Homo sapiens: one gene and its partner. The protein of the gene in region 2 purifies or fractionates together with the protein of the main gene of each other region. This does not show direct contact. Each region holds a gene or a part of one and is shown on either strand. Other genes may lie near its edges.

Evidence for each region.
Region 1: the proteins of DDX47 (region 2) and CDC5L purify together in Homo sapiens (affinity purification with mass spectrometry; 2 studies listed by BioGRID and IntAct, with this or other methods). This does not show direct contact.

The regions. Positions count from the first base shown.
Region 1 is NC_000006.12:44,418,535-44,422,459, forward strand, and holds part of CDC5L (cell division cycle 5-like protein), read left to right. Parts: intron 1-914; coding exon 915-1,063; intron 1,064-3,925.
Region 2 is NC_000012.12:12,816,164-12,820,088, reverse strand, and holds part of DDX47 (probable ATP-dependent RNA helicase DDX47), read right to left. Parts: intron 1-3,925. UniProt on the Homo sapiens protein: Required for efficient ribosome biogenesis. May have a role in mRNA splicing. Involved in apoptosis.

The DNA of each region.
Region 1 (3,925 bases), on a different chromosome or scaffold from region 2:
TGGTATTTCTAGTTCTAGATCCCTGAGGAATCGCCACACTGACTTCCACAATGGTTGAACTAGTTTACAGTCCCACCAGCAGTGTAAAAGTGTTCCTATTTCTCCACATCCTCTCCAGCACCTGTTTCCTGACTTTTTAATGATTGCCATTCTAACTGGTGTGAGATGGTATCTCCTTGTGGTTTTGATTTGCATTTCTCTGATGGCCAGTGATGATGAGCATTTTTTCATGTGTTTTTTGGCTGCATAAATGTCTTCTTTTGAGAAGTGTCTGTTCATATCCTTCGCCCACTTTTTGATGTGGTTGTTTGTTTTTTTTTTTTTTGTAAATTTGTTTGAGTTCATTGTAGATTCTGGGTATTAGCTCTTTGTCAGATGAGTAGGTTGCGAAAATTTTCTCCCATTTTGTAGGTTGCCTGTTCACTCTGATGGTAGTTTCTTTTGCTGTGCAGAAGCTCTTTAGTTTAATTAGATCCCATTTGTCAGTTTTGTCTTTTGTTGCCATTGCTTTTGGTGTTTTAGACATGAAGTCCTTGCCCATGCCTATGTCCTGAATGGTATTGCCTAGGTTTTCTTCTAGGGTTTTTATGGTTTTAGGTCTAACATTTAAGTCTTTAATCCATCTTGAATTAATTTTTGTATAAGGTGTAAGGAAGGGATCCAGTTTCAGCTTTCTACATATGGCTAGCCAGTTTTCCCATGATGTATAACACTTCTAATGTGATGTGTTAGATTGATAGAAGGAATGGAAACATTGAAATCTGCCATGACTGGTATTCATTTTCTCTGTTAGCTTTCATTGAGAAAATGAGTAAGGATTCTGCCTGCTTCAAGATTGGTATAGTAGGACCAGAAGAGATTCTGCAAGTCTGTCTAAACTTTTAAACTTGCTTCTTTGTCTTCTTGTTAATCAGGAAGCCCAGAACCTCATGGCCCTCACCAATGTGGACACCCCATTGAAAGGTGGACTTAATACCCCATTGCATGAGAGTGACTTCTCAGGTGTAACTCCACAGCGACAAGTTGTACAGACTCCAAACACAGTTCTCTCTACTCCATTCAGGTATTGTAAATGAACACGTTTTTATTTTAGAAAAACTTGAATTCAAGGACTTAGCATATTTGCTTTAGTAATGTTTACGGAGAATGACTACTTATTGTGTTGGATTTTCCTCTTTGATTTCTTCTTCATAGTAATAAATAATAGTGTCCAGGAAATGGTTAAATACTGTGGAGTGCCTCCCCCCCTTTCTTTAAGATGGAGTCTCGCTCTGTTACCCAGGCTGGAGTGCAGTAGCGCGATCTCAGCTTACGGAACCCCTCTGCCTCCCGGGTTCAAGCGATTCTCGTGCCTCAGCCTTCTGAGTAGCTGGGATTACAGACATCCGCCACCATGCCTGTCTAATTGGAGTGTTCTTTTGCAAAGCTTCGGATCCTATCACGTTATTTTTGAATACTTTGTATTTGATTTTAGAGTAGATTGATTCATTTTTAATGATTACTTTGTGAATTTTATTATGTAATCCTTTTATGTATGTATTACTATTGCTTTCCCTCCAGCATTTTATTATGAAAATTTCAGGCATTTAGAAAGGTTGAAAGAATGTGTGGAAGTTATCAGTATTGAAATGGAGTCATTTATGTTACATTTTAATGAAAAAGGAACCCTCATGCGCGTATGCCTATGACAGAAATTATTGCAGGGACCTTCTGAAAACCACACAAATTCCAGATAAGTTGCTTCTGTGAAGACATTGCCCTACCAACAGCCAGTACAGGTTGAGCATCCCAAATCTGAAAATCCAGAATGCTCCAAAATCCAAACTTTTTTTTTTTTTTTTGAGACGGACTTTTGCTTTTCTTGCCCAGGCTGGAGTGCAGTGGCGCGAACTCGGCTCATCACAACCTCCGCCTCCTAGGTTCAAGCAATTCTTCTGCCTTGGCCTCCCGAGTAGCTGGGATTACAGGCATGCGCCGCCATGCCTGGCTAATTTTGTATTTTTAGTAGAGACAGGGTTTCTCAGTGATGGTCAGGCTGGTCTCGAACTCCTGACCTCAGGTAATCCACCCGCCTTGGCCTCCCATAGTGCTGGTATTACAGGTGTGAGCCACTGCGCCTGGCCAAAATCCAAACTTTTTGAGCACCAACATGACACTCAAAGGAAACGCTCATTGAAACGTTTCAGATTTTGAATTTCCTGATTTGGCATGCTCAACCAGTAAGTATAATGCAGTTATCCCCAAATCTGAAAAAATCCCATATCTAAAACTCTTCTGGTCCCACATTTCAGATAAGGGATACTCTTATCTATACCGGCAATGAAAACAAATGCCACCTCCTGTGATAAGTCCCTGTAACCAATGGTCTTTGTTTCAGAACAGTTTGCGTAGACTCCTCCCTTGTATCTTTAAAAACTTCTCCTTGCCCCAGCACCCTCAGTTGTACCTATGGTCTGTCATAGCACACATATCCCACACTGTAATCCCTTGCCGTTCCCGAATAAACTCTTTGTTTTGGAGACCCGGTCTCTCACCCATTTAAGTTGACAAATGGTAAAGTGAACATCCATATACCCACCACTTAGATTCTAAGATCGTTAATATTTTACTATATTTGCTTTATCACATATCCATCCACCAATCCATCATAATTTTTAATGCATTTCGAAGTAACTTGCAGGTAGCAGTTTGTTTGATCCCAAAACACTTCCACATGCGTTAACTAGAATTCAGTATTTCTTTATAACTCTTGCTTAGTTTTAAGCTGCTGTTTTTTAAGAAGAATCTTTAAAATACAAATGTTATGGAAGCATGTAGTAGGAAAATGGAATTGGAACTTACAATGGTTGGAAATATTTGGGGTTTACTTTGAATTTTAAGTGTTAAGATATGTCTTCCTACTGGTTATTTAGTAGAGAAAGCACTTCAGGCTATTACACATATCATGACAGCAGAACCAAGAAGCATTGGCAGCCAGTCTTAAACATTTAACACTTCTTGAGAGTCTTGTAAGAGAGCATAATCCCTCATTTCCTATGTTTAGTCGGCTCTCTGTATCTGAGGATTCCACATCTGTGAATTCAACCAACTGTGGATAAAAAATATTCCAAAAAACTCAAACAGTACAACAATAACAAATAACACAAATAAAAATACAATGTACCAACTATTTATATAGCATTTACATTGTATTAGGTATTATAAGTAACCTAGAGATGATTTAAAGTACATGGGAGGATGTGCATACGTTATATGCAAATACGATGCCGTTTTATATCAGGGAGTTGAGTATCTGCAGGGAGTTGAGTATTGGTCCTGGAACCAATCCCCGGTGGATACTTAGGGACAACTGTATGTCTTGTCTCTCACCTAGATTGTAAAATCCTTGGGGGTGGGAACCATGTCTTATGTGATAACACCTTACCTATCAGGAATAGCTGTCTGGCAGCATCACCGTTCTGCAACACACCAATATACAGGAAATAGGCAACCAGGAAAAAAAAAGACTTTGAATAATTAAAATATAGGTTGCTGCAAAATCTGTGGATCTTATTCCTAGGAGAATCTCTTAGGCCTCACTCAGGAACTTACTCATGTTTAGATGTGATTTCAAAAGTGTGGTGTTTGGTTTCCAAACAAAATGTAAAAGGAGGAACTATTTAATAAAGTGTGTACATTTGTAATAATGACAGTGATAGTGATGTGAGAACCAACAGCTTGATAGGGAGGGAGGAGACAAATATACACAAAACTCAAAGAGTCATCTGGGGTCATTGAGTGTGGTGGCCCACCTCCCTGCCCACTGCATGTTCTTAGTCGCCCTAATGTGCCAAGAAAAGGTTGAAATAATGTTTAGTGGACGTAGTTTAGGAAGGCAAGAAAATATCAAATGTAGTGATTATTGTAAGTCAGTAAAATAAAAATA
Region 2 (3,925 bases):
TCCCTATTAAATCATGACCCCTACAGTTGCTGCCCCTGTTCTGACTGTGTAACTGCTGAGAAGTTTTCTTTACCTAGAAGATAATCCTACAATAAACAAATCTCTTTTCCCTGACATAACCTGAACATGACTTACAATCAGAAATGACTTAAATGACCAGAACAGGGAAAACAAAGGCTTAACTGGGACATTGGATGTAATTCAGGGGAGATATGATGGTGGCCTGAACTGAGGCCAGGAATGAGCACAGGAATGAGATTCAGAAACTAACAAAAGGAAATGTGGGTGACTCACACATTTTTAGTACGGGACACTCAAAAGCCAAAAACTGCAATATAGGCAACAGAAAAATTAGTCCTGGTGAGGAAAATAAGGACTTTGGTTTCCACACAGGGAACTTGGAACTTAAGATTCCTATAGTAAACTCAAAGAGATATGTCTAAAAACCAGTTGGACATACTTGTTTAGAGATATGTCTAAAAACCAGTTGGGCATAATTATTTGGAGGTATGTCTAAAAACCAGCTGGACATACTTGTTTGGAGCTCAGGAAAAAAGTGGGGGTTAGAACAGACATGGGAGCCATGAGTATCCTACCACTGGTACTTCCTCAGGGGCAGATGCTTCAGAATAATCGATGAGACTTACATATATATATATGCCCGGTCCCATGCCTGGAAATTCTGATTCAGTAGGTCTTGGCTGGGACCTAGAAATCTCTATTTAAAAAAAAAAAAAAAGCTCCATAGATGATTCTGAAGAATACAGACTCACTGATGCAGACAGGGTTTAAGCTTGAGGACTGAATGAGAAATGTTATGTAGTATTTCAGAGTAAGAAAAAAGGGTAAAGACAGAATCAATATTGTAAGGCAAAGGGAAAAGAACCAGAAGAAGAGACTGAGAAAGAACAGCTAGAAAGACAGAAGAAAATGCTGTCTTGAAATTAAGGAGGAAGGCAGCTTCAAGAAAGAAGAGTGATCAGTGGCGTTCAATGTCACTGATCAAGTAGAACAGACCTGTAAGATCCACCTCTTAAACATTAATCAGTTAAACCAGGATCTGCCATGCCAGATCAGACAACAGTGTGATATGGTTTGGCTGTGTCCCCACCCAATCTCATCTTGAGTCGTACTCCCATAATTTCCACATGTTGTGGGAAGGACCCAGTGGGAGATAATTTGAATCATGGAGGTGGTTTCCCCAATACTGTTCTCATGGTAGTGAATAAATCTCATGAGATCTGATGGTTTTATCAGGGGTTTCTGCTTTTGCATGTCTCTCATTTTCTCTTGCCGCCACCACGTAATAAGTGCCTTTCGCCTCCTGCCATGATTCTGGGGCCTCCACAGCCACACACAGAACTGTAAGTCCAATTAAACCTCTTTTTCTTCCCAGTCTCGGGTGTGTCTGTATCAGCAGTGTGAAAAAGGACTAACATACAGTGTATCCTAGTGAATTCTATTCTTTAGCCTTCTTTTCATTAACATCAGTGTTTTCCATTCAAAAGCATATGCACAGATGTGAAATACAAGTCAAACCAGACAATGGGACTGATTTTTTTTTTTTTTAGACAGAGTCTTGCTCTGTCACCCAGGCTGGGGTGCAGTGGCGAGATCTCGGCTCACTGCAAGCTCCGCCTCCTGGGTTCATGCCATTCCCCTGCCTCAGCCTCCCGAGTAGCTGGGACTACAGGTGCCCGTCACCACGCCCTGCTAATTTTTTGTATTTTTAGTAGAGACGGGGTTTCACCGTGTTAGCTGGGATGGTCTCGATCTCCTGACCTCGTGATCCACCCGCCTCGGCCTCCCAAAATGCTAGGATTACAGGCGTGAGCCACCACGCCCAGCCAATGGACTGATTTTTTTAAAGATTACAGACAAATGACAATCCAGGGATAAAATGTCTCACTCATCTACTTATTTTAATGTTCCCAGTGGCAGGGTAGGTAACAATGAATTGCAACAGCATCTACCTATCTGAGAAATAAAGGTCAGTGCAAGCAAATGATTCCCAAAGCTTTTTATTCCTCAACTCCTTGGGGATACTGCCGTCCCAGCCTGTGTAACACAATACACCTTCGGGAACAGCAGGCGGGGGAACTAGGATTTGTCCTTTTTTTGTCAAGGGAAATCTTAACATTTCAGAAGAAAGGAGTACATAAGAAAGATTTAGGGAAGTAAAGGAGCTGAAGTCGCTTAGTTCATGAAGCAATAAGCACTGCTCACTGCCTACAGCTGAGGCCTGCACTGCTTTCAGTTTTTTAGTAAGTCCCTCACAGCAACCCTCAGTTTGTGAAACTGATATATTTTTCTACGTCATCTCCTTTCTTCATCTCTGAAGAAACCGCTAAGCCTTTTCAGTGTTTATACCTGTAGAGAATATACCAGAATGCATAAACTCCATAAGAGCAGAATAGATTTTGTCATATAGACCTGCCACATTGCTGGCACCGAACATAAGCGCTTGCTATATGGCAGCCACTAATAAATTGTTTGAAATTCCTTGAGGACAACTTTAAGTGATCTCTGAAACAGACATAAATAGATGGTGTCTCAATGTGTTACCCAGGCAGGTCTCAAACTCCTGGTCTCAAGCAATCCTCCCACCTCAGCCTCCCAAAGTCCTCGGATTACAAGCATGAACCACCATGCCCATCAAACAACTTTTGATCTCTTGATAGTAACAAACTTTGATGCAGGTCCATTAATAGAGGTTTTTTGAGCTATAAGATTCTATGTTCAAATTCAGGCTCTAGCAATAATTAGTTAGGTGACCTTAGCCAAAGGACTTAACTCCCTGAGTCTCAATTTCCTCACTAATAAAATAATTATCCGTAACTACCATTCAGCATTGTTATAAGGTTTAAGAACAGCGGACAATCTGGGCTCAGTAACTTTGCAGAAACTGAAAACGTCAGTAGTCCCAAATTCAAATTTAGAAGTTATTTTCACCGAATAACAACAGCAACAAAAACAAACAGATTATTTGAATCATTTCTATAGATTCAAATGAAGCATTTATAAACTATTCATTAGAATGAGACAAACCCAAGAATAAGGATAAAGACATTTCTATGGTGATCATTTCTGTCAGTTCCTAGTAATCTTCCACTGACCCCTCCCTATTCTTTTCTGCATCAAATTTAAACTTATGGCTGAAAACATCAGAATAATTTTAGGATTACTGCCAGCTATTTTGACTCCTTCTCACCTACACTGTAGGGCAAGCTGGAAAAGTTAAAATGCATGAACGCTTCTTGCTATTTAAAAGTAACACTGGGCCGCTGATAGTTCTTTCCCACCACTGGCCTTTATACGGTCCTTATCCTCCAAACTTCTCTGCACAAGTTTGAAGTGTTTACTAATCCCTCCTTGAAACAGTTTCCCTTCCCTAATTTGTGTGAAACTATACTCTCATGATTTTCAACCCTCTATTGAATCTTCCAATTTTCCTCTGTCATCTTTGCCAATCTAATCCATTTCCAATCTCAGCTATAACCGCTCTTTGGATACAGTGTGTATATCCAGCTCTGGCCTCTCAATCAAGTTCCAATCCCAGGATTCCAACTGGGTATTTTTTTCCTTTTTTATTGTCCCCCAGTTTTGTTAATTGACAAAAAATTATACTTATGGTATACAATGCAAAGTTTAGATACATGTATACTTTGTGAAGTGATTAAATCAAGCTCATTAACATATCTGTCACCTCACATACTTGTCATTTTTGTGGGGAGACCATTTAAGATCCACTCTCCTAGCAATTTTCAAATACACAAAACATTATTCACTGTAGTCACCATGCTATTCAATAGATCTTCAGAACTTATCCATCCTGGCTAACTGAAACCGTACCCTGAGCAACATTTCCCCATTCCCCTCCCACAAGGTCAACTCTATCTCATTGATATCCAAAATCAATTACTTC